4 linked regions of the Homo sapiens genome follow. The protein of the gene in region 1 interacts with the protein of each later gene in a biochemical or structural test. Each region holds a gene or a part of one and is shown in the gene's direction. Other genes may lie near its edges.

Region 1 (7,173 bases):
AATTAGCCGGGCGTGGTGGCGCATGCCTGTAGTGCCAGCTACTTGGGAGGCTGAGGCAGGAGAATCGCTTGAACCCAGGAGGCGGAGGTTGTGATGAAGCAAGATCATGCCATTGCACTCCAGCCTGGGCAACAAGAGTGAAACTCCGTCTCAATCGATCAATCAATCAATCAATCAATAAACCAACCAACCTTATTTGTAACTCCAAAACCGAATTCTTAACCATGATGCTATTATGCGTCCGAGAGTACATGAGGTGTCCCGATTTTTGTTTTATTATGGTCACCATAATAATTACAGACGTTATAAGCCACCTCCGATCATTTTTTAAAAAGAGGAAGCTCTAAAATAATAGTTATCAGTCCCACCAGTTGCCCGGGGTGCTTTGTTGTGAGAAGGGGGTGGGGATTGGGAGTATACTAAGTCTCTGGGAATTGGGTCCCATGGTCTGCCCTCGGGGTTGGCTTAGCTTTCTCTGAAGAGATTAGTGAGCCCTCTAAGTCCACCACGCTTGGAGACAAGGACTTTTGGTAAGAACTGCTCAAGGGCCAAGAGTATGCTCTGGGACCAAATGAGAAAAGCCCCTTACCCGAGGCTAATTTTCTTACAACTTCATTCCTTACAGTATGCAGCTGACCCCCAGGATAAGCACTGGCTGGCTGAGCAGCATCACATGCGGGCAACAGGGGGCAAGATGGTAAGCATTATTCATTTGTGCCACTGCCAGTGACCCACCCCACCTGGGAACCAGGATTTTGGCTGTGGGTGACAGCCTACCTCCAAATCTGACTTCCAAAGCCTCACCAATGTGTGAGAAGAGAGACTTATAAGGCCTATTTCTTCATGCTGAAGAGCAAATTGTAATCTTCAGGTTCCCTTCCCTATCCCTAGGTCTCCCTTCCGCCCCCTCACACTTTTACCTCATGCCTCCAAGATCACATATTTGGATACTATTAGCTGTCCATAGGAATAGCAGGTATAAGACACACAGTACTACTTTTTCCCACTACTGCACCCACTGACAGATTTCACTCATTGATCACTCTTCCACCAGACACAGCTATAGAATCTTTTCTCAACACAGTACTTGAGGCAGCAACCCTTGTCAGTAGGAGTTAGCAATGAAATGTGTTTGCACACTTGGCAGCCCCTTCCAGATTTACCTCTACTTGAAGAGTTCTCAGATCATATGAAACAGCAACCTTAGGAAAATCATCATTGCATGTGTTCAAAAACTATTGTTGAGGGCTTTGTCCATCACACACAATGTCCCCCACCTGAGGACTCACTCACTCCCACCACAGGTACTGCTCCTTTTAGAATCTAAGTGCCTTACAAACTGATATGCCATCTCCTTTCTGGCAGTGAGAGCTACCTTTTATTTTATTTTACTACTCTATTTATGCCTATGCTTTACTTCAAAAAAGATTTCAGGTAAGCTTCATGCACATAAAATGCAACATTACATAAATAAGAAATAGATGGTAGGGGGTGGGGGCAGGACCTAAAATTAAGCCACCAGTAAAAGTAGTTCTTTAAAAAAAAAAAGTGTTTTTTATATTGCTGACCTGGGAGACCTGTGCACTTCTACAGATGTTGGCAAATTCAGCTGTAGGCCCCACTCATGGACACCTGATCTGTTATGGTTCATAGTGCCCATAAGATGTAGACAAATTACTCAAGGAATACACAATTATTCCTGACCCTAACATTAGAAAGTCTCCCACAGAAGACTTTCTAATATGATGAATATCTCTTCCTATATGTTAAGTTCACAAAAGGGCCCTCACCCACTGTAGACCGAGGCATTGTGACAAAGCATTTCTACAGGCCCCAGTACAATACAGGCCAATTACTAGACAGCAGAGCAGTTTATCATGTTTTCCATTTTGCCACAAAGTTCAAAACCAAGTTATCTTTGTCCTCAGAGGGAGCACATGGTTTCCTCTTCCTGATTTCCTGTTTCCATATATATTTTGCTGGCTTTCTTGCCATTTTGTTATAACCCACCTTGGGTCCTTTCGTATACTTGATCTTAACCAAAAGGTGTAGGAGCAATGGTGGATCCCTTTTTTTTTCTTTTTTTCTTTTTTTTTTTTTTTTCTTAATTTTCACCACACCATTCAAGAGAGAAATGGGTCCTTTTTTAAAAGAGAAGGCTATAAATAAGTCACCAGTCCCTACTCTCCCATCCATGAAGCATCTACTGTAGTAAAAGATTGTCTCAAGGAACCATTCCCATCCCTCCCCACTTACTCTTCCGTACTAAATTGTAAACCGCATCCCCCGCTTCCACCTAGTAGCAGGCCTTACATTAAACAGATGTTTAATGAAGTGTTACTGAGTTGGAGTGAAATGAATCAGGCAATGACCACTCTCCCTTGCTCCTGCCTCAGGCCTACCTCCTCATCGAGGAGGACATCCGGGACCTTGCGGCCAGTGATGATTACAGGTAAAACCAGTGGGTCTCCTGCCCCTTCTCCTCTCCCTGCCTCCAAATAGCCCCTAGAATGAGGCAGGGCCTACATCCTCACTTCCCCCAACTTCTCTCTTCAATGTCTGTTCCAGAGGATGCCTGGATCTGAAGCTAGAGGAATTGAAATCCTTTGTCCTACCCTCCTGGATGGTGGAGAAGATGAGAAAGTATATGGAGACACTACGGACAGAGAATGAGCATCGTGCTGTTGAAGCACCTCCACAGACCTGAGGCCGGGTCCCCTGGCCACACTTGGCAGCCCTCCTCCAAAGCCCTCTTCCTCACGTGGCTGAGGCCACCGCTGGGACTGCTCCTAGATGGATCTCAGCGGCATTAAGCTGTGCCTGAGCGAGTTTGTAGTGACTCACTGCACAGCACCCCCAGACTAGCATGTGGTTCTATATTTGTAAAGTTATTGGGATAAGAAACAATTAAACAGTTTGTAGTAAACACAGATGGTGAACCTGCTGTGCCCTCTACCTTGTGGGAATTGACAGAACATCAAGGGCTCTAGAAGTGGGTGTAGGAAAAAAGGACGAGATAACCCTCACCCATAACAGTATAGAGCCAGGCTTGATAAGACCAACCTGGGAGCACCATGTACCCTGCCCGTCTTCCCTTTGCCCATTTGTAGTTTCCTTACCCAGCTAATGTAAGGACATGGCAGAATGCGATGGAGTTTGATGACAGATCATATGAAAAATAGAGTTGGCTTTTATTGCTCCCATTTTACAGGTTAAGATACTAAAGGACCCGCCCCAAGGTTACACACTACCCACTGGGGAGGTAGGATATACAGGATATGAACCTGTGTTGTTGGGGTTTTTGTTTGTTTGAAGACAGTCTTGCTCTGTTGCCCAGGCTAGAGTGCAGCCTCTGGCTCAAGCGATTCTCCCGCCTCAGCCTCGCCAGTAGCTGGGACTACAGGCTCGTGCCACCTCACCAGCCTTTTTTTTTTTTCTTTTCTTTTTTTTTTTTTTTCTTTTAAGTAGAGACAGGTCTCCCTATCCTGTTGCTCAGGCTGGTCTCGAACTCCTGGGTTCAAGTGATCCTCCTGCCTGGGCCTTCCAAAGTGTTCGGGATTACGGACGTGAGCCACTGCGACCAGCCTGAACCAATGTTGCCTTTTTTTATTTCTGTCATCTCTGCGGAGATGTATGGACCTATGTTTTCTAATAGGGAGCCTGCTGCTCTGGCCATCAGCCTTTAGTTTTTCCCCTCGCTGGGATTTTCAGATACTTAGGACGCAGCAAAGGTGCCCAGGCGATTATAATGGTGGGAGGGTACCAGTGCTGCAGGATTGGAGGCACTCCCTGCCCGAGGGAAATTGGATCAAGGCTGGGCGTGCCGAGTGTTCCCACGCGGAGTAAGACGTGTAGCCAGAAGGAGGGGTTCATCCCACGTGGACGTTTTCTTGGCCCTTTAATGGTTAGCGTTTTCCAACGGCCACCAATTCGCTACGGATTCGTTAGTTAATGGCAGCATCATCTACCAATCGGTTGTCAGAAGCGGGATTCTGCCGCCCAATAGCGGTGCGCCAGTGGGTAGGTCTAGCAGTGGCGCAGCAATAGAGCGCTCCGGAGCGTCTCATTGGCTGGATCAAACCCAAGCGAGCCATTGATTGGTCGACGCCCCCAGAGGGTTACAATTCAAACGCGGGCGGGCGGGCCCGCAGTCCTGCAGTTGCAGTCGTGTTCTCCGAGTTCCTGTCTCTCTGCCAACGCCGCCCGGATGGCTTCCCAAAACCGCGACCCAGCCGCCACTAGCGTCGCCGCCGCCCGTAAAGGAGCTGAGCCGAGCGGGGGCGCCGCCCGGGGTCCGGTGGGCAAAAGGTGAGTGATGCGGCCTACCACTCGCCGGGCCTGCCATGCCCTAGGCATTGGTACCCAGAGCAAAGATTTCTAGGACCACCCCCCGCCGCCACCTCCTGGAGCGGGAGATCTGCGGGTGCAGGAGAACACACCAGGAGCTCGGGGCCTGGCATTCCCCTGGGCATGGGTGTCGAGGGCGGAGACTTCCGGGACTCCCACCTCCTTGCGCGGGTGAGATTCGAGAGATGGGGGACAGGCCAGGAGCTCAGACCGCTCTTTGAGACTCTCCCGAAGGAGAATGGGAGGGTAGGGGCGCTGCCAGACTCCTTCCCTGGTGGGCCTAGATGAAGACGCTCAAGGACCCTCGTGACTTGGCCGAGACAGGGGAAGGGAGAAGTTGAGTCGGGCAAGGAAGAGATGCTAAAGCCTGGGGAATTAAGAACATGCCAGAATCATCCCGAGGGAGTCTGGAATTAGGGAGGGTGAGGACTCGCTAGGATCGTCCTGTGGATCTGGTGAGTATACCCTGAGCTGAGCCTGACCTTGGTGATGTGGGGAGCCTCCATGACGGCTCCCCCTGAGATTCAGGTGGGAGAAGATGCACCGTCTGGAGGCCTGGCCCATCCAGACTCCCAGGTAACCCCGAATACTCTTTTTTCAGGCTACAGCAGGAGCTGATGACCCTCATGGTGAGTGATTAAGTGCCCAGAACCCCAGCCTTCCATCCAATTTTCAGTAGCCTCCTTTTTTCCGTCAGCTTTTTTGCTAGACATAGGGGTAATGTAATTTGCTCCCTCCTGGGAAAGAAGTTCATACACCCCACCTACACCATTTCTTCCAGCAGTCCCTCCTCCCAATTCCATCCCCCCACACGAAGTTATCTCGAACACTTCCCTGAAGTCATACAAGACCCTCCCTATCCAGTGTGTCCCTACTTCCTAGCCCCAACCAAGCTTTACCCACACCCAACTCCCCGCCCTTCTTGGTATTTCTAGCCTATGAATTTGGTTGCTTTATTTTGGATCAGAGTGATGAGATTAAGGGGAGGCTGGGCGCGGTAGCTCACACCTTATAATCCCAACACTTTGGGGGGCTAAGGTGGGCGGATCACTTGAGGTCAGGAGTTCGAGACCAGCCTGGCCAACATTGCAAAACCCTGTCTCTACTAAAAATACAAAAATTATCCAGGCATGGTGGTGCATGCCTGTAATTTCAGCTACTCGGGAGGCTGAGGCACAAGAATCATTTGAACCGTGGAGACAGAGGTTGCGGTGAGCCGAGCGCACCACTGCACTCTAGCCTGGGCGACAGAGTGTGTGTGTGTGTCTGTCTCTGTCTATCTCTCTCTCTCAATCTCTCTCTCTCTCTCTCTATATATATATATATGTAAATATATATTTTTTAGTAGAGATGGCATAACCCCATCTATATCTCATATATATACACATATATATGTGTGTGTGTATACATATATATGTGTGTGTGTGTATGTGAGCATATATATATATATATATATATATATATAAAATTAAGGGGAAAGCTCACCCACTGACCTTTGCTATGCCCAAAAGTGTACTCCACATTCCAACAAATGTGTTTTCTCCCCAGATGTCTGGCGATAAAGGGATTTCTGCCTTCCCTGAATCAGACAACCTTTTCAAATGGGTAGGGACCATCCATGGAGCAGCTGGAACAGTAAGTGTAGGGCTGGGATGGGTGAGTGAGTCTGGGGAAAGGTGGGAAGTGAGATCCAAGTGCGAGCTCTGCTTCAAGCCTTTGGCGGAGCAAGACACTCCTCCTGTGACTGTTTACATTCTCTGAGCCATGTGGCCTTGTTCTTTCCCTCTGTGCAATAAAGGGTGGGTTTAAAGCAGGGCTGCCTATCTTAGATGTTTACATGGGGGGACAGACAGCAAGGAAATGGATGAAGTGAGGACTTTGGCCAATAGGGCCAGATCTCAAGAAGGCAGCTTCCCATTGCTGCAGATCAGGTTTAAGATGAGTCAGAAGTCCAAATCTGTGCCAAATCTAATTTTTACGTATTAGCAACTAATATTCTTTTTTTTTTTTTTTTGAGACGGAGTCTCGCTCTGTCGCCCAGGCCAGACTGCGGACTGCAGTGGCGCAATCTCGGCTCACTGCAAGCTCCGCTTCCCGGGTTCACGCCATTCTCCTGCCTCAGCCTCCGAGTAGCTGGGACTACAGGCGCCCGCCACCACGCCCGGCTAATTTTTTGTATTTTTAGTAGAGACGGGGTTTCACCTTGTTAGCCAGGATGGTCTCGATCTCCTGACCTCAAGATCCACCCGCCTCGGCCTCCCAAAGTGCTGGGATTACAGGCGTGAGCCACCACGCCCGGCCAGCAACTAATATTCTAATTGAACTAAAGCACAGGATGCCAATTTACAATCCTTAGACCAAAGAGTCACTGATGTCTCCACCAGATAAGAGGAAAGCATCAGGCTAGGCATAGTGGCTCACACCTGTAATCTCAGCACTTTGGGAGGCTGAGGCAGGCAGATCACATGAGCCCAGGAGTTTGAGACTGGCCTGGGCAACATGGTGAAACCCTGTCTCTAAAATAAAAACTAAACTAAAAAAACTTTTTAAAAAGGCAGTGGGGAGCATCAGAACCAGCTCAACAGTTTGTCTACTGTCCGGTCCCAGAGAAACTCAAGATTCTAGCAAGCCCCTTGTGTGGGGCTTGGGTTGGGACATGAGGCTGCTGCTGGAGCTTACTCTGCAACTGTTTCTCCAAATGCCAGGTATATGAAGACCTGAGGTATAAGCTCTCGCTAGAGTTCCCCAGTGGCTACCCTTACAATGCGCCCACAGTGAAGTTCCTCACGCCCTGCTATCACCCCAACGTGGACACCCAGGGTAACA
Region 2 (7,021 bases), on another chromosome or scaffold:
ACTGACCAATGACAAGGCAAGGAGATAACTAAGTAATAGAGGCCACTACACGTGCCCAGGGAGGAACTCACATCCTCAGGTCAGTGAGTTCTGACCACAGACCTTGGCTTCTTTAACCCTGCCAGCAGCCCCTTGAAGACAGTTTCATTTGTCCCAGCTTTTGGAGAAAATGAGGCTCAGAGGAAATGAGATCTCTACCCCAGGTCAGTCAGAGAGTCAGTAAATGGAAAATATGGTTCACCTTTGTCTCTACTAACTCACCAAGCCTCTTGCTACCCAGGTTGGCTCTTAGCATTCTAAGCAATTCACCTGGCTATCTCAGGGGCTCCAGCCAGCCTGCTGCCTCCCCTCATCTCCCATTCCTTAGCCCTGTGGACTGGGCCCTGAGCCCAGGGGCATTTGGCAAACAGTCCCCCACCAGCTGCATGCCTCTGGGCGAGTGAATGGGGTTCTCTAAGCCTTTCTTTTCCCATTTGTGATTTGGGCATAGGGTTATCTGGGTCATGGGGATTGTTAAGATTAGACAAAGCCCTTTCCTCTTTGATTGACACACAGTATGCTCTTGGTAGATAGTAGGGAGCTCTTGTCATTGTGGTTGGTGCTAGTGACAAGTGCCAAGATGGAATCTTAGGTACATTGGGATACTTAGTGTCATAAAAGTCTCAGTGTGGGAGGACTTGTGTGAACAGAAGACTCAGTGCCTAGAGGAGCACTTGGGGTGAGGGGAAGTGACGCTGGGTCCTCCCATCTCCAGCATGTGGACCCAGTCACCCCCACCACCAGATTTCACTTCCACAGCAGGCTTTATTGTTCTGTCTCTGGGACCTAGCAGGTGACCCTGGGCAAGTTACTTCTCATTTGTCCGGCAAGGACACTAAACTCTGCCTTGCTGGGTCAGGGTCATGGAGGGGATGAAACGTGATAACACGAGGAAGCAGCCTGGGCTTCAGAGTCAGCAGATCCTGGTCTGGTCCCAGCTCAGTGTGTGGGAACCTTGGTCACCGAACGTCCCTGAGTGAATTTTTTTCCATCACTTTAAAGTTGGGGGTATTATTGATAGCAGTCCAAACCCCACAGGAGTACCCTGAGGACAGAGTGAGACGAGGTTTAGAGAAGTGCTTACTATGGCATCTGGCACAAGGAGGACTCCTGATCAATCTAATACTCATTTATCATTGTGGTTAACCTGTTTAAGGGACTCCGCATGCAGATGAGGCTTGGGATGTGTTTGTTTTCTATCTTTTTGCAACCTCTTTTATTGGTCTGTGTCGGTTTTCCCCTCCCAAAGCTGGGGGCAGGGTTGGGCTTTATAAAACTTGAGCCCCTCTGGGGACTGGGTTCTCAGCAAGTTACCGCTCCTGCCATCATGCCACCCTGATGGATGTCCAAGCCTCACTTCCCTCCTGCACTCCCCGCTCCCGCCGCCATCCCTGGGATTAAGGGAGAGGAGAATGGCTGCTTGTTACTGCCTACCTACTCTGTGCCAGGTTCTATGCTCTGTGTTATTTATCATCTCGATAACCCCGTGGGGAAGGTAAGTGGTATTATCACCCCTGTTTCACAGGTGAGAAAACTGAGGCCTGTGGCGGTTAATTATTACTGTTAGTGCGTGGCAGGCTCAAGATTTGAAACCAGGTCTGTCCTGAATCCACATCCTTCCCCTGACCTCGACACAAGTACATTCTTGTCATTCCTTTCACTCCAGGATTGGAGTCTCTCCCTCATTATGCTGGGCTGGGAAGAAGCAAATGGCTTAGTGGTCAGCAGTGTGGATTTGCAAATCAGACCACCTGGGTTCAGATCTTAGGTCTGACAGCTGTGTTACCCTGGGCAAGTCCTCACCTTTCTGTGCCTGTCCCCTCTTTGCTGTAAAATGGGGGTACTAATACTTAAGTCTTCCCTTCCCCCACAGTTGCTACTAACAAACAGAAAAACGGTACCCATGTGCTCCAGGGTCACCTCTGACCTTTTTTTCCTCCAGATGTCCAGCTCGCCGCTGTCCAAGAAACGTCGCGTGTCCGGGCCTGATCCAAAGCCGGGTTCTAACTGCTCCCCTGCCCAGTCCGTGTTGTCCGAAGTGCCCTCGGTGCCAACCAACGTGAGTGTCCTCTCCGTGGAGACTGGCAGACGAGGTGGTGGGTGGGAAAGTCTTTTGTATCACTGTCTGTCTATCCATGCTCCACTCCTGTGTGTCTCCCTAAACTTGTTCTTTTCCTCTATTCCTAGGGAATGGCCAAGAACGGCAGTGAAGCAGACATAGACGAGGGCCTTTACTCCCGGCAGCTGTAAGTGGGGCCAAGGCCGGGCTGAGGGGTGTGGAATGGGACATTGAGAGGATAAGGTTGGGTGGGGCAGGCCCTGACCTAGAGTACCCCCTAACCTGGCAGGTATGTGTTGGGCCATGAGGCAATGAAGCGGCTCCAGACATCCAGTGTCCTGGTATCAGGCCTGCGGGGCCTGGGCGTGGAGATCGCTAAGAACATCATCCTTGGTGGGGTCAAGGCTGTTACCCTACATGACCAGGGCACTGCCCAGTGGGCTGATCTTTCCTCCCAGGTACCTCTTCCTAGCACCCTTCCCCCTTTCCCCCTTCCCGAGGCACCACTGTTCCCGGTGCCACAGCCATTTCATCTTTTTCCCTACTGCACACCCTTACAGTTCTACCTGCGGGAGGAGGACATCGGTAAAAACCGGGCCGAGGTATCACAGCCCCGCCTCGCTGAGCTCAACAGCTATGTGCCTGTCACTGCCTACACTGGACCCCTCGTTGAGGACTTCCTTAGTGGTTTCCAGGTATCTTGGGGGTACTACCCAGCCTTCTGCCCAGTTTTCTCAGAGCCCATCTCTGGTTTATTCAGTAGTGTTCAATATTGATTTAATGGGTCGGCCTGAATGTCAGGTTTTGTGCTGGGGGACTAGAGTATGCAGGCAGCAGTTAGCCCCTGGCCCTGCCTTTTCTTTTCTTCTTTTTTTTTTTTTGAGACGGAGTCTTGCTCTGTCGCCCAAGCTAGAGTGCAGTGGCGCGATCTCGGCTCACTGCAAGCTACACCTCCTGGGTTCACGCCATTCTCCTGCCTCAGCCTCCCGAGTAGCTGGGACTACAGGCGCCTGCCACCACGCCCGGCTAATTTTTTTTTGTATTTTTAGTAGAGACGGGGTTTCACTGTGTTAGCCAGGGTGGTCTCGATCTCCTGACCTTGTGATCCGCCCGCCTCCGCCTCCCAAAGTGCTGGGATTACAGGTGTGAGCCACCGCACCCGGCCTGGCCCCGCCTTTTCAAGTGGGGAAGATGTGTACAGACAGTACAGCATAGTGGTTGTGGGCACAGACTGTAGAGCCATACTGCCTTGCTGCAGGCCTCCAGCCTTGGTAGTGTGACTTCAAGCAGGTTGTTTCATCTCCTGTACCTTTGTTTTCCTGTTTGTAGTCAGTGCGTGGTAGCAGCACTGACTTCATGGACTTTTTGTGAGGGTTAAACACGTGGAATTGCAGCTGGCATATAAGGACTGGATGGGTGTTTGTTAATTAAAAAGTCCAGGCCGGAAAGAGGTGCTCTGGAAGCTGAGAGTTGTCCCTGGAGTATCCCAGGTTGCCAGGGCACTGCAGCTAAATCCTGATGGAGGAGTAGGAGCTCACCCTGGTGGGGAAGGATGGACATTCAGGCAGAGAGCAAAATCCCAAAGATCATGGCGGAGCAGGCGTCGTCTTGAGAATTGGAAGCAGGTGGGTGTGGTAGGAGTGAGCTCAGACTTTGGCTGGAGACAGAGTTTTACTCCAGTGTCTCACAGGGCATGGCAGACAGACAGCAGCGGGTGTTTGTCAAATAAATGAGTCAGCTCTTCTCCAAACTCCCTCCTCCCAGCTACCTCTTCACCTTTCCTGGTATAGTCCAGGGGTTCATTTTCGACCCCCACAGAGTCTGATACACAGTAGGTGCTATGTGTTTGTGAAAGAGGCTGACCCAGCAAAGCCTGGATGTGTTTGCCTTGAGGACTGCCTGAGTCCTCCACACCAGCCCTCCATTTTTTCCCCTTCACCCCAATGCTGGGCCTGAGCCTCCATCTCTCCACAGGTGGTGGTGCTCACCAACACCCCCCTGGAGGACCAGCTGCGAGTGGGTGAGTTCTGTCACAACCGTGGCATCAAGCTGGTGGTGGCAGACACGCGGGGCCTGTTTGGGTGAGTGGCAGCCCACCTCCCTCCCTGTCCCCTTTTCCCCCAACTCCTACCAAGCCCAGGCCAAGACTCTAGGCTCTCCCTGCCCTCATCCCTTCTCAGCTACCCAGGTTTTGGGTTCTGTGTTTTCATCTCTCCCCATGTGGCACAAGTACCATCTTACATCCCAGCAGTGATAGGCTGAGTTTGCTCAGCAAGTTTTCACTACATCTTGAGGGACCCGTGGGACCTGTATGTGCATGGGACACAGGCACCAGCCCTATTGCTTCCCTCTACAGGCAGCTCTTCTGTGACTTTGGAGAGGAAATGATCCTCACAGATTCCAATGGGGAGCAGCCACTCAGTGCTATGGTTTCTATGGTTACCAAGGTAAGGAGACCAGCCCTAGGGTTCCTGGCAGGCAGGTGGGCTGCAGTAGTCCTTCCTGTCTGCTCTTGGTACCCTGGGCCTGTTTCTGAGACTCACTCTTCCTTTAACCAGGACAACCCCGGTGTGGTTACCTGCCTGGATGAGGCCCGACACGGGTTTGAGAGCGGGGACTTTGTCTCCTTTTCAGAAGTACAGGGCATGGTTGAACTCAACGGAAATCAGCCCATGGAGATCAAAGTCCTGGGTGAGCTGCGACCATGGGGGAAGCAGAGGGGAACTAGAAGATATGTTCCTGGGTTCTGGCCGGGGAGTTGAAGGGAGAAGACATGGCCCTTGGTTCAGAGTTGGGAAGACACATCCTGGTGTTTGAGATGAACTACAGACAATCCTGTGGGGTCCAATAAGAGCTGGTGGGCATGGGGGAGAGGTACTGTGTTTGAGCTATTCCTGGGAGAATGTGTCCCTGGTATCTGAGCTGAGTGGGGAAAAAGTCTCTGGTGTTTGAACAGGGCAGATCAGCGGATCTACTTGTGTGTGAGCTGATTTGGATGGGAAGCAGAGAAGGTCTTCCCGTGTAGACTTGGAGCCAGGGACACAGGGTCTCACGGGGTCTGAGCTGAGTCTGGGGCACAGGAGAGATGGTTTCTGATGTCCAAGTGGAGCCTGGAGCTGAGGGAAGACAGCTTCTGATGTCTGAGCTGAGTCGGGGCAGGAGGTTCCTTATCTTGCAGGGGTTGTGGATTTTAGGGAGAATGGGTAGACTGACAGCTCTCTTCCTGCCCTCTGTAGGTCCTTATACCTTTAGCATCTGTGACACCTCCAACTTCTCCGACTACATCCGTGGAGGCATCGTCAGTCAGGTCAAAGTACCTAAGAAGATTAGCTTTGTGAGTGTGTCGATGGGATCAGTGGGCTGTGGGGGGTGGTTCTAGGCATTCCCTAGTTCTCCATTCCTCTCTTCTGGTTCTGATGACCTCTCCCCCCGCCACAGAAATCCTTGGTGGCCTCACTGGCAGAACCTGACTTTGTGGTGACGGACTTCGCCAAGTTTTCTCGCCCTGCCCAGCTGCACATTGGCTTCCAGGCCCTGCACCAGTTCTGTGCTCAGCATGGCCGGCCACCTCGGCCCCGCAATGAGGTGGGTGAGTGGGCGAGCCAGCCAGCGCAGACATGCCTGGCACTGCAGGCTCACCATGCCTCTCTGCGTGTCCACACTCCCTGCCCTCACTGTGGCCTGACATATCCTCTCTTGGTTCTTTCTGGCCCACCAGGAGGATGCAGCAGAACTGGTAGCCTTAGCACAGGCTGTGAATGCTCGAGCCCTGCCAGCAGTGCAGCAAAATAACCTGGACGAGGACCTCATCCGGAAGCTGGCATATGTGGCTGCTGGGGATCTGGCACCCATAAACGCCTTCATTGGGGGCCTGGCTGCCCAGGAAGTCATGAAGGTCAGCACGGGTGGGGAGAGGCAGGATTGGGGTGGGCCAGGTTCCTCCATGACTCTGTCACTTGCTCTCTGTCTGTGTCAGGCCCCTGTTAACCACTGACCACCCCCTCTCTCCCTTCCCCTCTCCAGGCCTGCTCCGGGAAGTTCATGCCCATCATGCAGTGGCTATACTTTGATGCCCTTGAGTGTCTCCCTGAGGACAAAGAGGTCCTCACAGAGGACAAGTGCCTCCAGGTATGTGGGTGGGACCTGTGGGGAGGGCATCATTGGGGACATTTCTGGGGAGGCCTCTCTAACCCTCCTCCCTTTGCATTCCTTAGCGCCAGAACCGTTATGACGGGCAAGTGGCTGTGTTTGGCTCAGACCTGCAAGAGAAGCTGGGCAAGCAGAAGTATTTCCTGGTAAGTGGTCCCCTTGGATGTCTGCTCCCCTCATCTTGGCCTCTGGCCATCACCCCTGGGGCTTCCTTCGGCATCTCAATGCAACCGGTGGCGCATTCTCTTTGCCATTCTCCTTATCTTGAAGGGAAGCCCAGTGCATCCCTCGTTTCCCCTTCTGGTGCCTCCTTCCTCACATGACTGCGTGTCATTTCTTAGAGTCCTGCAACCTGAAGATGTGGTGTTAGCCCCTCTCCCCGTCTCTCAGGGGAGTGAGGGGTGATGGGTAGCTTCACACTAACCTGCATCACCCTGACCAGCCTCTGCCTGTCTTCTTGGTTGCTTCTTAGGTGGGTGCGGGGGCCATTGGCTGTGAGCTGCTCAAGAACTTTGCCATGATTGGGCTGGGCTGCGGGGAGGGTGGAGAAATCATCGTTACAGACATGGACACCATTGAGAAGTCAAATCTGAATCGACAGTTTCTTTTCCGGCCCTGGGATGTCACGGTGAGTAGGGTAGGAGGTTGGGGCTTTGTCGTCTCACTTTCCTCCTTTTTCTTTTTTTTTTTTTTTTTGAGACGGAGTTTCGCTCTTGTTGCCCAGGCTGTAGTGCAGTGGCGTGATCTCTGGCCCACCACAACCTCTGCCTCCTG
Region 3 (6,784 bases), on another chromosome or scaffold:
CTCCTGAGCCCCTTGAGACCCAGCCTTGGTCATTTTGGTGTCCCCAGTGCATAACTCCTTGCACAGAGGAGATAGTAATTGTGGGATTGAAGAAAACCTCAGGAGGCAGTGGTTGTTTTTAATCCACACTGAAGAGACTAGGGCAGTGGTGTTTTTTTAAGGGTAAGAGCATGTGGAAAGGAGCAAACAAATGCCTGAGCAGAATCCAGTGTAAGAAGAGAAGCAGGCTTCAACTTAACCGTGTTTCTATTTTTACAGAATTATTTTTCTCCTATTTATGTTAAAAACTATTTTCTGTTGGTTCAAACTTCCTTTTACCCAACTCTGACTCCTCTTCCAGCTAGTGAATGAGTCCATTTTTGCTCCCTAAAATATTCTATATTACTTTTTTCATTAAGCTGATAGTATTCCAGATTGAATTTTGAAAACTTCTAGTACAGCCTTTAGGATCTCATTTTTAGTATTTACACCTACTCCACTATATTAGAAGTTACTATAAGCTCACTGGGCATGCTCATGGGCAGTTTATTTTCAAGGCACCCTTTTAAATAACCCATACATATAATGTTAGTATTTGTTTATATATACATCAAGAAATTCTAGAAGGATACCCAAGAAACCAGTAATAAAGTAATTTATTAAAAGACTTTACCATTGTTGGGTAAATACTTTGGGCTCAGACTTATCTGTATTTTCTTTCTTTCTTTTTTTTTTTAAAAAAACTTTTAGGTTCAGGGCTACAAGTACAGGGTTGTTACATAGATAAACTTGTGTCACAAGGGTTTGTTGCACAGATTATTTCATCACCCAGGTATTGAGCCTAGTACCCATTAGTTATTTTTCCTGATCCTCTCCACCTTCCACCCTCCAAAAGGCCCCAGTGTGTGTTGTTCCCTGCTATGTGGCCATGTGTTCTCATCATTTAGCTCTCAAGCATTTTCTTTTTTTTTTTTTTTTTTTTTGAGACGGAGTCTCGCTCTTTCGCCCAGGCTGGAGTGCAGTGGCGCTATCTCGGCTCACTGCAAGCTCTGCCTCCTGGGTTCACGCCATTCTCCTGCCTCAGCCTCCCGAGTAGCTGGGACTACAGGCGCCCACCACCACGCCCGGCTAATTTTTTGTATTTTTAGTAGAGACGGGGTTTCACCATGTTAGCCAGGATGGTCTCCATCTCCTGACCTCGTGATCCGCCCGCCTCAGCCTCCCAAAGTGCTGGGATTACAGGCGAGCATTTTCTTACAAAGAAAAAACCTTAGTGTTTAGGGATATCTAGTATTTACTTATTTTATCTGTAAAATTCTCACCAGTTTGTATCATCCCCACTTAATATATAAATACCTCACAGTATTGTCCCTTTTTTACAGATGAGGGAATTGGAGTTCGTAATTGGTCCGAGGCCCTGAACCTAATAAATGCCAGTGAAATGGGATTTGACTGTAGATCTGGCTCCACAGCCCTCGCTGTCCCCTCTGTCTCACTGGCTTCTCACCAGCCTTGTCTGGATGACCATCGGTAGCAACCTATTGGAAGCATACAAAGCAGTTTATTTTAGAGGAACTCTCAAGTGTCTTAGGGTAGAAAGTAAAAAGTTGCTTCTTATGAGTTGCTAAAGGAAGGCTTCTGTGTCAGTAAGTATGGATGACTTTAAAAAACTTGTTTATGAAGCAATTTTTTAATTTAATTTTTTATAAGTTATATATTCATATAGTTCAGAAATTGAGGAAGTTATGTATATTACCTGGAAGAGTGAAAACTCTCCTTCCCATTCCAAACCCTCCCAGTAAACTTTATTATTGGTTCCTTGGGTATCCTAGTGTTTCTTGATGTATGTATAAACAAATGCTAACATATATATATGGTTTATTTAAAGGGTGTCTTGAAAATAAACTGTCCATGAGCATGCCCAGTAAGCGTATGGTAACTTTGAATATAGTGGAGTATGGCATATTTTTCTCTAGTAGTTTTCTCTCTTGGCACCGTCAGGACATCTTTTCATCAGAGCTTATAAAAATAGAGGATTTGTTAACCCTTGTGAAATTGCTCCTGGTTATAATTAGTAGAATGCCTTGTACTTTATTCCTCTTTAAGTAGTTATGTTCAGATGAGAAATTAATAGTATGAGTCTTTATTGCCATCCCTAACCCTTAGGGCTTTTGACTTTGAAGTGTCTGGTTTTTAAAAATTGCATTCTGAGCATCAGAATGAGAATCGCTATTTGTTTACTTTTAGATGCCTGTCTTAGATGTCAAGCTGAAAACAAACAAGAGGACTGTGTTGGTATGTTGTAATTTTGTTCTCTTGCTTTTTCAACTGAAGGTTTTCTCTCAGTAGGGATGTTTGAATTTGAAATTAAGATTGACTTTATCAATACACAAAAATAAACTGTAAAGCAGTGATCCATTGTTAATATAAAATATGTTGGTTCTCAAAAGAGTTTAATGGAATGAACCTGCAAGTCCTTTTATTGCCATAATTAAGAAGAATTGGTTATATATTCCAGACATGGTCATAATAAACATTTTGGTAATCAAAAATTAAATATTTTCTATTAAGAAAATTATAAAATCAGAAATTTGTCAAAACATTATTTGAATTTTGGCTATGTTATAGGTCACTTTTGGTTCTAATAAGGCATTTCACTTTTCAATACTCTTATAATACAGTATTTAACTTTAAAACCAGAGTAGAAAAATTCTAAGTCTCAAGTATATTTTTGGAATGTGGTTTGTGTATCAAATTTTCTTTAGAGTCTTAGACTACAAAAGTTGTCGTAGGCTAAATATTTTAGGCAGTTCAAAGATTTTTATGCCCTAGTTCTTGAGGTGATCAAGTCTAGATTGCTATATAAACATGTTTATAGATTTTCTTAGAATAAAAGATTGGCTTTGTATTTTGTGTTTGCATGGTGTACGTAGAACACAAATACATGGTGTACATAGAACTTCTTAATATTGATTCTTGCAGTTTTGATCCAGTTCTTCCTCCTGAAACGCTTAGAATGTTTCACCCTTGCTTCCTACCCCCTGTAGCCAATTTTCATAGGCATTTTTTTCTTTTTTTCTGCCTTATTTCTTTCATTTAATCTTTTTCTCTGCCTTATTTCTTTCATTTAATCTTTTTCTCTTGTCATATAGCTCAGTTGATCAAGCAAGGGACAGATGAATCCCAAATTCGAGATTGCATTCTAGATTGTGGATGATTTCCCTTGTTTTAAAGTTTTTCTTTCATGCTGCTTGTTTAAAAAGTATTAATTTGGGAATTGTGAGGGGCAGGCCACTTTCTTTGATCACAGAGAGACCTCTCTCTCCAGCCAGCCACTTTGAAAATTTCATCGTCACATGAGGAATTGCACTGCTTATGGGTGACTTAACACAATTCATCACTTCTAGAAAACAGCTCAGCTCAGATGCACAACTGAATGTTTAGAAGCATGTTATTTATAATAGCCTACTGCATACTAAAAACATTTACAACTCATTCTGTCTTGGTAAATAAAAATTGGAAGGACATTTTCCCATAAAATAAAGCCCAGAAGATCTCTAAGGTCAGTGCATGACTGAGAAGGTCAGATCTAAGGAAGGTTCAAGAACATTCATCTAACTTCAAGAAGACAGCATGTGGAGCTGTGTAGGAACTAGGGGTCATCACATCACCCATAGATTCTAGAACAGTGATGGAAAGGCTCTCAAACAGTGACTTATGTCTCTGTGTAACTTACACATTTAAGTTTCTGTTTCTTTATAGATAGAAAAACATTATTTTGGCCAATTAACTATCTTTTTTCAAGATTATTATTTGTAATATAAAATAAGCTATAATTTTGAGTTCAGTGTTTAAATTGAAATATGTAATGTCAACTCTTCTTTTTCTTTCTTTCAGTGGTCTGGGGAGAATGTAATCATTCCTTCCACAACTGCTGCATGTCCCTGTGGGTGAAACAGAACAATCGCTGCCCTCTCTGCCAGCAGGACTGGGTGGTCCAAAGAATCGGCAAATGAGAGTGGTTAGAAGGCTTCTTAGCGCAGTTGTTCAGAGCCCTGGTGGATCTTGTAATCCAGTGCCCTACAAAGGCTAGAACACTACAGGGGATGAATTCTTCAAATAGGAGCCGATGGATCTGTGGTCCTTTGGGACTCATCAAAGCCTTGGTTTAGCATTTTGTCAGTTTTATCTTCAGAAATTCTCTGCGATTAAGAAGATAATTTATTAAAGGTGGTCCTTCCTACCTCTGTGGTGTGTGTCGCGCACACAGCTTAGAAGTGCTATAAAAAAGGAAAGAGCTCCAAATTGAATCACCTTTATAATTTACCCATTTCTATACAACAGGCAGTGGAAGCAGTTTCAGAGAACTTTTTGCATGCTTATGGTTGATCAGTTAAAAAAGAATGTTACAGTAACAAATAAAGTGCAGTTTAAAACCCAACTCTTACTCTTAATTTGTTCCTAATACGTATTTTTGGCAGGGAGAGGGAACGGTCCATGAAATCTTTATGTGATATAAGGATTTTAAGTTTGGGCCAGTGAACAGGGTAAATAAAATTTAACTTTTGAGCATATGGAATTTTGATTGCCTTTAAAGTTACTATTCTGTATCATTGATTCATCAAGAAAACCTAGATCTGCACTCACCTCACTGTTCAATCATTGAGTGGTAAAGGACAGAAGTATTTTCTAGTTCTGGTCAGATGATATAATTTTTTTTTTTTTTTTTTGTGGGGGTGAAGTCTTGCTCTGCCACCCAGGCTGGAGTGCAGTGGCATGATGTCAACTCACTGCAACCTCCGCCTCCCGGGTTCAAGTGATTCTCCTGCCTCAGCCTCCCGAGTAGCTGGGATTACAGGTGTGTGCCACCACACCCGGCTAATTTTTGTATTTTTAGTAGAGACGGGATTTCCCCATGTTGGCCAGGCTGGTCTCAAACTCCTGACCTCAGGTGATTCGCCCACCTCAGCCTCCCAAAGTGCTGGGATTACAGGTGTGGGCCACTGCACCTGGCCCAGATGATATAATTTAACTGTGTTTTAGGTAACATGTTAATGAGGGAAAATGTTTACCAGTGTAGCATTGGATCAAAAAGTTTATCACACAGTGTTTTAATAAATGGTTTATTCTGCTTACCTTATTTGAATTGTCATTATAATTTTATATGCAACCTTAATTTGTCAAGTAAATACTTTCATTTAATTTGAAAGAATTCATATTCATTTGCTCTTTCATTTGACAATAATAAAATTTAAGGTTTATTACCTGGAAAGAGTGCAAGAAAATACTAAACAACTTTATCAAACTGATTCACACTGAGGGGAGGTTATTTTGTAACAAATAATGGACCACAAGTTCATTTTGTATTCTTCTGTAGTAGAGGCTACTGATATGAATTTAAGAAAAAACCTTAGAATCTTAACTTTTCACATCTGCAGATGCAGTGTGCCATTCTGAATTTTTCAATCTAAGGGATGTGGATACATAGAATGTTTAAAAAGATAACAATTAGAATGAAAAATTAAAATTATGTATGCTTTTATATGGGTTACTTTTTATTGATCACATTTCTCTGGAAATTTTTCTTTATATTTTTTCACAGTTGTCTTTCTAGCTACTGAAAAAATTATACAAATATCTTTGGCCATTTAAATGTTTATCATTGTGCAGTGAACTGTTTTAGTAACTTTCTGTTTGACCTTTTTAGAAGGTTGCATCCTTAAAATGTGAACCAGATACATGGCTTTGCATTGAAGAGGAAAGCAGTAGAATGTCAGGTTACTTTAGGCAGTGTGACAGTATATAAATGAAATGTGGAGGATGGTGGTAACAATTTGATTTTCCACACAGCAAAACCACAGTCCCGCCACCTAACAAAGCCCTGTTTATGCCACACACCAGCATCTGAGGGAAGAGGAGGCACTGTGACAAAGCAGCGCTGATGCTGCTCAGCCTGCGATGATTACAGCTCATCTGCACAGCCATCTGAAAGTTTAATACATACTCATCAGAGGGAACATGCCGGGACAATTTTGGGTTCCAATACAAAAGTTAAGCATCAAACAGGTTTTTCTTTCCATTTGATTAAATGTGCTGATTTTATTTTACTGTTGCATTAGAAACAAACAAGTTATCTTTCGCTATTTAATTTTCCCTCTATGCAAATTGTGTTATTACAGCTGACCGCTATCAGTAAATCTTAATTCTGTCAGTCCCATTGCTTCCTTTTTTATAAAAATACTGTGTCCCCCTTTACTGTCATGAAGTGAAATTCATAAATATATTTCCTACACATATAATTTAAATGTATGTAATTGTTATATGACAGAACTAAAAAGAACTTGTAATTCAGTTGTATTTCAATATAGAAATGCTTGGACATGGATGGGCACGTTGGCTCACGCTGTAATCCAAGCACTTTGGGAGGCCAAGGTGGGTGGATTGCCTGAGGTCAGGTGTTCGAGACCAGCCTAGCCAACACGGTGAAGTCCTGTCTCTAACAAAAATTGGCCGGGTGTGGTAGCAGGTGCCTGTAATCCCAGCTACTCGGGAGGCTGAGGCAGTAGAATCGCTTGAACCCACGAGGCAGAGATTGCAGTGAGCCGAGATCGCACCACTGCACTCCAGCCTGGGCAATGAGCGAAACTCTGTCTCAAAAAAAAAAAAAGAAATACGAAAAAGCAGCACTTTGCTGCTTTTTAAGTTATTGCCATGGAGCCAGGCATGGTGGTGCACACACTAGTCTCAGCTACTCTGAAGGCTGAGGCGGGAGGATTGCTTGAGCCTAGAAGTTTGAGGCTGCAGT
Region 4 (7,706 bases), on another chromosome or scaffold:
CGGCTCACTGCAACCTCCACCTCCCTGGTTCAGGCGATTCTCCAGCCTCAGCCTCCCAAGTAGCTGGGATTACAGGCATGCACCACCACACCCAGCTAATTTTGTATTTTTAGTAGAGACGGGGTTTCGCCATGTTGGCCAGGCTGGTCTTGAACTCCTGACCTCAGGTGATCTGCCTGCCCCAGCCTCCCAAAGTGCTGGGATTACAGGCGTGAGCCACCGCGCCCAGCCGCCCCACTCTTAAATGGACGGATTATCACAGCTTCCACCAGCCACTTCATCAAATATACAACTAAGAGAGGATCCTCATGCCTTGCTCCGTGGCAAGGTTAAAAACAACAACAAAAAAACAAACAGAAAAAGGAATTACACTACAAAGTCAAAACTGCTGAATCCACGTTTCTCTGAAAACCAGAGTACAAGAAGGAAAGGAACAGCCCAGAGATGTTCTGGCTGTGGGAAGCCTGTGGACGGCACACAGGGCAGCCATCCCACCCCAACCTCCCCTCACCTGGAGGCACAGGCACAAGGGTCAACAGGTGGCTCCCGGGCAAAGGTGTCCTCCCACCTGGTGAGTTAGAGAGGAAGGTGTTAGGTGTGAGGCAGGAAAGAAGATAAGAAAGAAGACAGGCAGCTTCGGCCCTCCAGGAGCGGGGACCCCCCGCCACCCCCACAACCCATGCCAACTTCAGGTGTCCAACACCAGATGGGGCTGCTCCCTCCATCCCCAACTCAGGTTCTCCCACCCCCTCCCAGCTGGACAGACACCAAAATCCTGGCCCAGGCCTGGACTCCAACAGTGGGACGAATCAAACAGTTCCAGTTCTACACACATTTCTATTTTATTATGGAAAAGGTGGAAACGCCACCTTCTCCACAACAGCAACCAGTAAAATTTATCCCAAAAATAACTCGGTACAAAACAGGTCTGTTTCAGAATTAAAAAAAAAAAAAAAGAAAAAAAAAAAACCTTTACATGAGTTTTTAAATCCTATTTTAAAACATAAAAGAAACAAATCCATCATTGGCCGCACAGCCCCAGCCACCGCCCCCCAACCAGGGAGCAAGAGGAGACGCCTGGGTCCTGTTCCGCACGCGGATTTGCTGGTCTGTTTAACTGGTGTCCATCTGAAACACAGAGGAGAAAGAGGCTTGCATTCACAGGCGGCCTGCTCCCCACTGCGGCTTTGACCAGGCCCCCAGCTGGCTCCCCCGGGACTCACTCTCGCATTATAGGCGTCCAGCTGGGCATCCAGCTCCTCTGCCGAAAGCTGCTGCTTTGAATTCCTGCCGGCACCTCTGCCTCTTCCACGGGCGCCTCCGCGGGTGCCTCTCCGGGTGCCTCCACCACCACCAAAACCTCCAGCGCCACGGTTTCTAGTCATGCCACCTCTGTTTACGCTAGCAAGGAAGACGAAACCGTTCACACACCCGGAAGGACCCTAAGAGCGACGCAGCCTCACCCTCGGCCAATCCCCTTCCCCAGAGGCCCCGGAAGTCACCTCTGTGCAGGCCTCCGCTGTGCGTCAATCTGTGACGTGACAAGCTGAATGTTCATGGGGCGGCCTGCGGCAAAGAATACGAGAAGGCACGTTCTATTGAGAGGCTCTGAAACCCACCCAGCTGGCGCCACACCCTGGTCTCCATGCAAACACTGGAAAGGGCCTCTGTGCGTCTCAAATGCCCCCGACAAGGGAAATGGCCTGGAGATACTGGTGGGAGAACAAAATGGCAAGGAAGCAACCCCACCAACACCTCCTCACTCCTTCTCAGTCCAGACTAGGTGGGCTGCTCGCTGAGGTATCGGGGTGCTCGTGGGTGGAGAGGTGTGGGTGACCTGACGAAGAAGAACCGGTACCTTTGTCTTTACGACTACAGCCCCGCACTCAGAGGTGTACTATGGCGGTTCTGAGAAGGCTTCACAGAAGTGAATCTTCCGGAAGGAGCTGAAGGAGGGGAGGGATGTAGCTTGCTGGATGGGGGTTCACAAGAGGTTGGTCCAGATGTGTGGGGCAGCATGAGAGGTGGCAGATGGAAGAGAGAGACAAAGGGGCAAATGCAAAGTGTCCTCAGCCACAGGGGTACCCCATATTCCTACCTGGACAGGTGCCAGCCCCAAACTCCACAAGCCCCACAGTCAGCGTGGGTCCACCCCCAGACTCACCATCCAGAGGGACGCCGTTGTACTGCTTCATGGCCTTCAGGGCATCTGCCTTCCGCTCAAAGTGCACGTCTGCTGTTCCTAAGCTGCGACCAGAGCGATCATAGTGCACAGCCGCCTTCTTCAGCGTTCCAAATTCAGCAAAGAGTTCCTGGGAGTTGCAGAGAGCAGTTGTCAGAAAAGCAACAAAACTGCGTTCCTTCTGGTGGCCCAGGGACAGGCCCTGGAAGCGTGAGTTGCTTTGGGGGTGGTTCTCTGGGAGGCAGGACAGTGGTTAACGGGAAATGAGGGAAGGGCGGGGCAGGAGGGACAGCAACTTCCAAGAGCACCTGGGTCTGAGGGCTCCTGCCATTGTGGGGACCTGACACGTGTACCACGATGCAGGTAGAGGAAGCTGCAAAGCCCACTAGCAACGGGCACAAAATTAAGCCACTATCCTCTTCAACAAAGGAAAATGTACAACACACCCAAGGGCTGTTCCAAGAAACGGTAAAGGCCAAAATCAAGAGCAAGGGAAGCAGTCCGATATCAGACCAGCTTGAAGGGCCTGTAGATTCGGGAGCCCTGACCCCAGCCCCTCCCCCAAAGGCAGATTCTGGCTCACCTTTCCCTCTCCTCCTACTCAAGCCTGCGGCAAAGTCTGAAGTCAAGCGCTGTCATGGAAACTGCCCTGACCTCAGGCAGGCTGGGAGTTGGAGAGGGAACCCAGAGTGTGGGGATACTCCGGCCGCAGGCACACAGCGGGAACTGGAGTTCACCAAAAGCGGTTTCCAGTGGATGCTAGAAACCACCTTAAAAAAAGTGTTGAGACACTGTGAGTGCTCACTGGCCCTACTCTGTCCTCCCAAGGCAAATGGCTGGGCTGTGGGCAACTGAACCCTGCCCAGCCATCTCCAAAACTGATTCCCAAAAAGTCATTTCTTAACCAGAAAACAAGTTGAAATGCCATTGGGATTCAATTTTTCTTTTTTTAAAAAAGAAAAGCTTCAACCAAAGATGGATTTGAGAGTCATGTCACTGACGGGACACGGCGGTGGGGAGTGATAAAACCACAGCGTACAAGGTCTTTATAAGACAGTACTCAAGGCAAACAGAGCCAGAAAAACAGACTCCCTGTGCTTCACAAGATACATAAAGAAGATTCTTTTTCTCACATTAACCCACTAAGACAGGCACAAAATTTAAAAAGCAACTGGGCTGGGTCTAACAGCCAAAAACCACTCACATTTGGTCAGTCTTTGTCCCTGTTAGAAACTGGAAGCCCTGGCAGGGGATTTTCACTCACAGAACCCATCTTCAGACTAACAGCAGCAGTTCCTCAGGCTCAGCTAGGCTCGCACCTGCCTGCGCACTGACCCCGGCTTTACTAGCACTGGGTCTGTCCTGCAGCCCTTCAGAGCTGGGAGGGCTCCCTTCGCTAAGGCGGGAAGGGGACTCAGGGCCACATCCCCAAAATCACGATCCGTCCTGTGCAGGGCGAACGGCTCACCGAGAAGCCCTCGTCTCTTACCTGAATATCGGCGTCTGAGACTCCAAAATCCAGATTGGACACCAGCAGTTTCCCACCTGTCTCCACGCCGGCACCACCGCCGAAGCCACTGTCGAAAAGATCGTGCTGCCACTTGTCGGGAAGTTGTTTTGGCTGAAAAAAAAACCGCAACAAGAGCAGATCTGTGAGTCTCAGTCCAGGGCTTTCCTGACCCTCACGGCTACTCCGGACCCTTCCTCTTCCCGGCCTGAGAGGATCCGGCCGAAACGGGGCCGCCAGCGCTCCCTCCGGCGCTGCAGCTGCCCCAGCCCGAGGCCGCACGGTCCCACCGCGGCCGCACAACTTCAGTTCCCTTAGACTAACTTCCCGCCGCCTGTGCCGCGCCCAGCGTCCCCTCCTCTCCTGCCACGAGGCCCCAACGTCCGGAACAAACAAAGAGCTGGGAAGGGTCTCAGCCTCCGGGACCGGACCCCGAAAGAACGACCTCGCTCCCGCCCACCACCCCCTCCGCGCCCACACGCACCCTCCGGACCTCCGGGCGGCCGCTCCACCAGCCTTATCCACCCGCCGGCCCGGGTCTCCGCCGCGAGCGGCCCCGGCCCCAGCCCCGGCTGGCCCCCTCCCACTCTCCGGCGCGGCCGGCCTCCGCACTCACCCTGCTGTAGGGCGCCGGTCGGTTCCTGCCGCCTCCGCCGGCCGCGCCGCGGGCGATGGCCGGCCGGTTCCGGATGGGCCCGCCGCCTCGATTCACTCGCGCGGCGGCCTGCGCCCCACCGCCGCGGCCGCCCTGGGAGCCGGCCCGGCCGCGGCCCCGGCCCCCGCCCCGGCCGCCTCGCTGGCTCCGGTTCAGTTTAATGATGTCGTCCAGAGACATGTCCATTTTGTCGGCCATGGCGGGCGCGGAATCGGGCATCGGCTCGAGCCCGCGCGTCAGCACGCCGGCACGTCACTTCCGGCGCCGCGTGAGGCCTTCCGGTGCCACGGCCTCGGAGCGGCTGCTGATTGGCCGCTGGCGGACGGCTGCGCGCGCGGGACGGGGTGAGGCGGGGAGGCGCGTGCGCACTGGCGTGCGAGACTCGGCGGGCGCTGTTGAGGGAGTCGGGCCGCGACTGTGGTCGTTTTTATACCTTCCCGCGCGGACGCCGGCGCTGCCAACGGAAGGGCGGGTAGGGCGGTGCGTGATTAGGTTGGCGAAGGTGCGAGGGCGCAGGGGGTGGGGCGGCGGCCGTTGGAGGCGGAGCCTACGCGCCCCTCCCTCCCCGCACGCTCCGCCCGATCGGCCAGGGCTGGGGGCGCTGGGGGCGCTACGGGCGCGGCGGGTGCCTGGGAGCTGCTGGGAGTCCTTGTTTCCGCTCCCGCCCAGGACTGTGCGCTCGGCTCGCGGTGGGGTCCGGCGGGCGCGGCTTCGGCGGGCGGCAGCCGCTGCAGACGAGCTGCGGGTTGGTTTTTTGGTCTCCACCTGCAGCCCCCCCAAGTCTGCACTGTCACATTTTGCCAGTCATATCCTTTACAAGTTTTCTTGCGGGCCGGGCGCGGGCCTCACGCCTGTAATCCCAGCACTTTGGGAGGCCGAGGCAAGAGGTTCGCTTCAGCCCAGGAGTTTGAGACCAGCCGGGGCAACATCGTGAGACCCCCATCTCTAAAAAAAAAAATGAGCTGGGCATGGTGGTGCACTTCTGTACTACCAGCTACTTGGGAGGCCGAGGTGGGAGGATTGCTTGAGCCCAGGAGGTCGAGGCTGCAGTGAGCCGTGGTGGCACCACTGCACTCCAGCCTGGGCGACAGAGCCAGACCCTGTCTCCAAAAAAAAATTATTTTTGCAACTTATTAATGAAAACCAGTGTGCCATTTCATTGATTTTTTTTTTTTTTTTTTGAGGCAGTCTCATTCTGTCGCCCAGGCTGGAGTGCAGTGGGGCGATCTCGGCTCACTGCAACCTCTGCCTCCTGGGTTCAAGCGAGTCTCCAGCGGCAGCCTCCCGAGTAGCTGGGACTACAGGCACGTGCCACCATACCTGGCTAATGTTTGTATTTTTAATAGAGACAGGGTTTCGCCATGTTGGCCAGGGTGGTCTTGAACTCCTGACCTCAGATGATCCGCCCGCCTTGGCCTCCCAAAGTGCTGGGATTACAGGCATGAGCCACCACACCCAGCCCATTTCATGGATTTTAAGTTGTTTTGAGATACTTGCTTTTGTTTTTGTTTTTTGAGTCAGGGTCTCCCTCCGTCACCCAGAGTGGAGTGCAGTGGTGTGATCTTGGCTCACTGCAGCCTCAAACTCCTGGGCTCGAGCTATCCTCCCACGTCAGCCTCTCAGGCAGCTGGTGCACGCCACCACAGCTGGCTTTTTTTTTTTTTTTTGAGACAGTCCCACTATGTTGCCCAGGCTGGAGTGCAGTGGTGCGATCTCGGCTCACTGCAATCTCTGCCTCCCAGGTCCAAGTGATTCCTGTGGCTCAGCTTCCCGAATAGAGCTGGGAGCTGGCGTGATCTCAGCTCGCTGCAACCTCCGCCTCCCAGGTTCAAGTGATTCTCTTGCCTCACCCTCCCGAGTAGCTGGGATTACAGTTGCCCACCACCACACCCGGCTAATTTTTTGTATTTTTAGTAGAGACAGGGTTTCAGTATGTTGGCCAGGCTGGTCTTGAACTCCTGACCTTGTGATCTGCCTGCCTCAGCCTCCCAAAGTGCTGGGATTACAGGCGTGAGCCACTACGCCTGGCCTCTAATTTTTGTTTTTTTGGTAGAGATGGGGTTTCACCATGTTGGCCAGGTTGGTCTCGAACTCCTGACCTCAAGTGATCCACCCTCCTCGGCCTCCCAAAGTGCTGGGATTACAAGCATGAGCCACCACCTGCGGCTAATTTTTTTGTATTTTTTGTAGAGACGGAGTTTCGTCATGTTGGCCAGGCCCATTTGAGATCTTTGAAGATATCCTCAACGTGAGGTAAAACCAAACTCCTGACTGTCCTGTGCTCCCAAATGTGATCTCCTTGTCCGTAAGGAGCTGAGTCCCTTCCCTTGGAGAGAAGAGTGTGCCCTTTCTCTAGATGGCTAAAGAAACCTCACAGATAGTTCTTTTTTTTCCTTTTTTTTTTTTTTTTTTTTTGGTAGAGACTCAGTCTCACTGTGTTACACAGGCTGGTCTCAAACTCCTGAGCTCAGGCGATCCTCCCGAGTTGGCCTCCCAGAGTGCTGGGATCACAGGTGTGAGCCACAAAGCGGATTGCTGCTGGGGCTTGCTGTTCTCCCGTAGCTCCCCTGCAGCCCTGACCCTCTGGGCCCAGAGCCCTTTACTTGTTATTTGTTTTAATAGAAACGGGGCTCATAGCAGGGCATAGGGGTTCACGCCTGTAATCCCAGCACTTTGGGAGGCCGCAGTGGCAGATCGCTTGAGGCCAGGAGTTCAAGACCAGCCTGGCCTACATGGTGAAACCTCGACTACTAAAAATACAAAAATTAGTCGGGCGTGGAGTCACGTGCCTATAGCCTCAGCTACTCAGGAGGCCGAAGCACAAGAAATGAGCTGAGATCATGCCACTGCACTACAGCCTGGGTGACAGAGTGAGACTCTGTCTCAAAAAAAAAAAATTAATAAAAATAAAAGTAAAATAAAATAGAAACAGGGCTCACGATGTTTCCCAGGCTGGGTTCGGACTCCTGGGCCGGTATGATCTTCCTGCCTTGGCCCCCTGAGTAGCTGGGACTGCACTGTGGCAGGCTTATACCTGTGTTGGTGCCTAAACGTTCTAGCTCTGCAGACTCAATTTAGCCAGTCGTCCTGTTCCCTCCGCCGCAGGCTCTGCTGCCATGAAGGTGAAGATTAAGTGCTGGAACGGCGTGGCCACTTGGCTCTGGGTGGCCAACGATGAGAACTGTGGCATCTGCAGGATGGCATTTAACGGATGCTGCCCTGACTGTGAGTGTCCCCTCCATGCTGTCTGAGCGGCCCCGACTGTGAGTGTCCCCTCTGTGCTGTCTGCTGCCTGCTGGACTAGCCTCAGTAGCTCCTGTTAAATACCTGCACGAAATACCCAGTTTCATTTTCTTTTTTTT

What was found.
Region 2: of the proteins of UBE2C (region 1) and UBA1, one has a biochemical effect on the other in vitro, tested with the Homo sapiens proteins (5 studies listed by BioGRID, with this or other methods).
Region 3: the proteins of UBE2C (region 1) and RNF7 form a complex in vitro, tested with the Homo sapiens proteins (4 studies listed by BioGRID).
Region 4: the proteins of UBE2C (region 1) and ANAPC11 form a complex in vitro, tested with the Homo sapiens proteins (66 studies listed by BioGRID).

What each region holds. Positions count from the first base shown.
Region 1 is NC_000020.11:45,808,489-45,815,661, forward strand, and holds the start of UBE2C (ubiquitin-conjugating enzyme E2 C), read left to right. Parts: upstream 1-4,155; 5' UTR 4,156-4,207; coding exon 4,208-4,308; intron 4,309-4,506; exon of another isoform or gene 4,507-4,802; intron 4,803-4,948; coding exon 4,949-4,976; intron 4,977-5,895; coding exon 5,896-5,982; intron 5,983-6,901; coding exon of another isoform or gene 6,902-7,052; coding exon 7,053-7,173. Other genes in the region: DNTTIP1 (deoxynucleotidyltransferase terminal-interacting protein 1), read left to right, coding at 626-697, 2,397-2,452, 2,569-2,707. UniProt on the Homo sapiens protein: Accepts ubiquitin from the E1 complex and catalyzes its covalent attachment to other proteins. In vitro catalyzes 'Lys-11'- and 'Lys-48'-linked polyubiquitination.
Region 2 is NC_000023.11:47,196,822-47,203,842, forward strand, and holds part of UBA1 (ubiquitin-like modifier-activating enzyme 1), read left to right. Parts: exon of another isoform or gene 1-169; coding exon of another isoform or gene 170-203; exon of another isoform or gene 204-1,381; coding exon of another isoform or gene 1,382-1,534; intron 1,535-1,569; exon of another isoform or gene 1,570-1,635; intron 1,636-1,981; coding exon 1,982-2,098; intron 2,099-2,226; coding exon 2,227-2,285; intron 2,286-2,387; coding exon 2,388-2,556; intron 2,557-2,658; coding exon 2,659-2,793; intron 2,794-4,072; coding exon 4,073-4,179; intron 4,180-4,454; coding exon 4,455-4,545; intron 4,546-4,656; coding exon 4,657-4,789; intron 4,790-5,334; coding exon 5,335-5,432; intron 5,433-5,536; coding exon 5,537-5,683; intron 5,684-5,816; coding exon 5,817-5,993; intron 5,994-6,121; coding exon 6,122-6,226; intron 6,227-6,312; coding exon 6,313-6,393; intron 6,394-6,719; coding exon 6,720-6,875; intron 6,876-7,021. UniProt on the Homo sapiens protein: Catalyzes the first step in ubiquitin conjugation to mark cellular proteins for degradation through the ubiquitin-proteasome system.
Region 3 is NC_000003.12:141,741,283-141,748,066, forward strand, and holds the end of RNF7 (RING-box protein 2), read left to right. Parts: intron 1-1,361; exon of another isoform or gene 1,362-1,625; intron 1,626-2,226; coding exon 2,227-2,274; exon of another isoform or gene 2,275-2,275; intron 2,276-3,876; coding exon 3,877-3,995; 3' UTR 3,996-6,278; downstream 6,279-6,784. UniProt on the Homo sapiens protein: Catalytic component of multiple cullin-5-RING E3 ubiquitin-protein ligase complexes (ECS complexes), which mediate the ubiquitination and subsequent proteasomal degradation of target proteins.
Region 4 is NC_000017.11:81,887,018-81,894,723, forward strand, and holds the start of ANAPC11 (anaphase-promoting complex subunit 11), read left to right. Parts: upstream 1-4,705; 5' UTR 4,706-4,824; exon of another isoform or gene 4,825-4,846; intron 4,847-4,909; exon of another isoform or gene 4,910-5,089; intron 5,090-6,086; exon of another isoform or gene 6,087-6,170; intron 6,171-6,534; 5' UTR 6,535-6,597; intron 6,598-7,449; 5' UTR 7,450-7,460; coding exon 7,461-7,569; intron 7,570-7,706. Other genes in the region: ALYREF (THO complex subunit 4), read right to left, coding at 1,114-1,128, 1,224-1,401, 1,503-1,566, 2,165-2,312, 3,672-3,803, 4,306-4,563. UniProt on the Homo sapiens protein: Together with the cullin protein ANAPC2, constitutes the catalytic component of the anaphase promoting complex/cyclosome (APC/C), a cell cycle-regulated E3 ubiquitin ligase that controls progression through mitosis and the G1 phase of the cell cycle.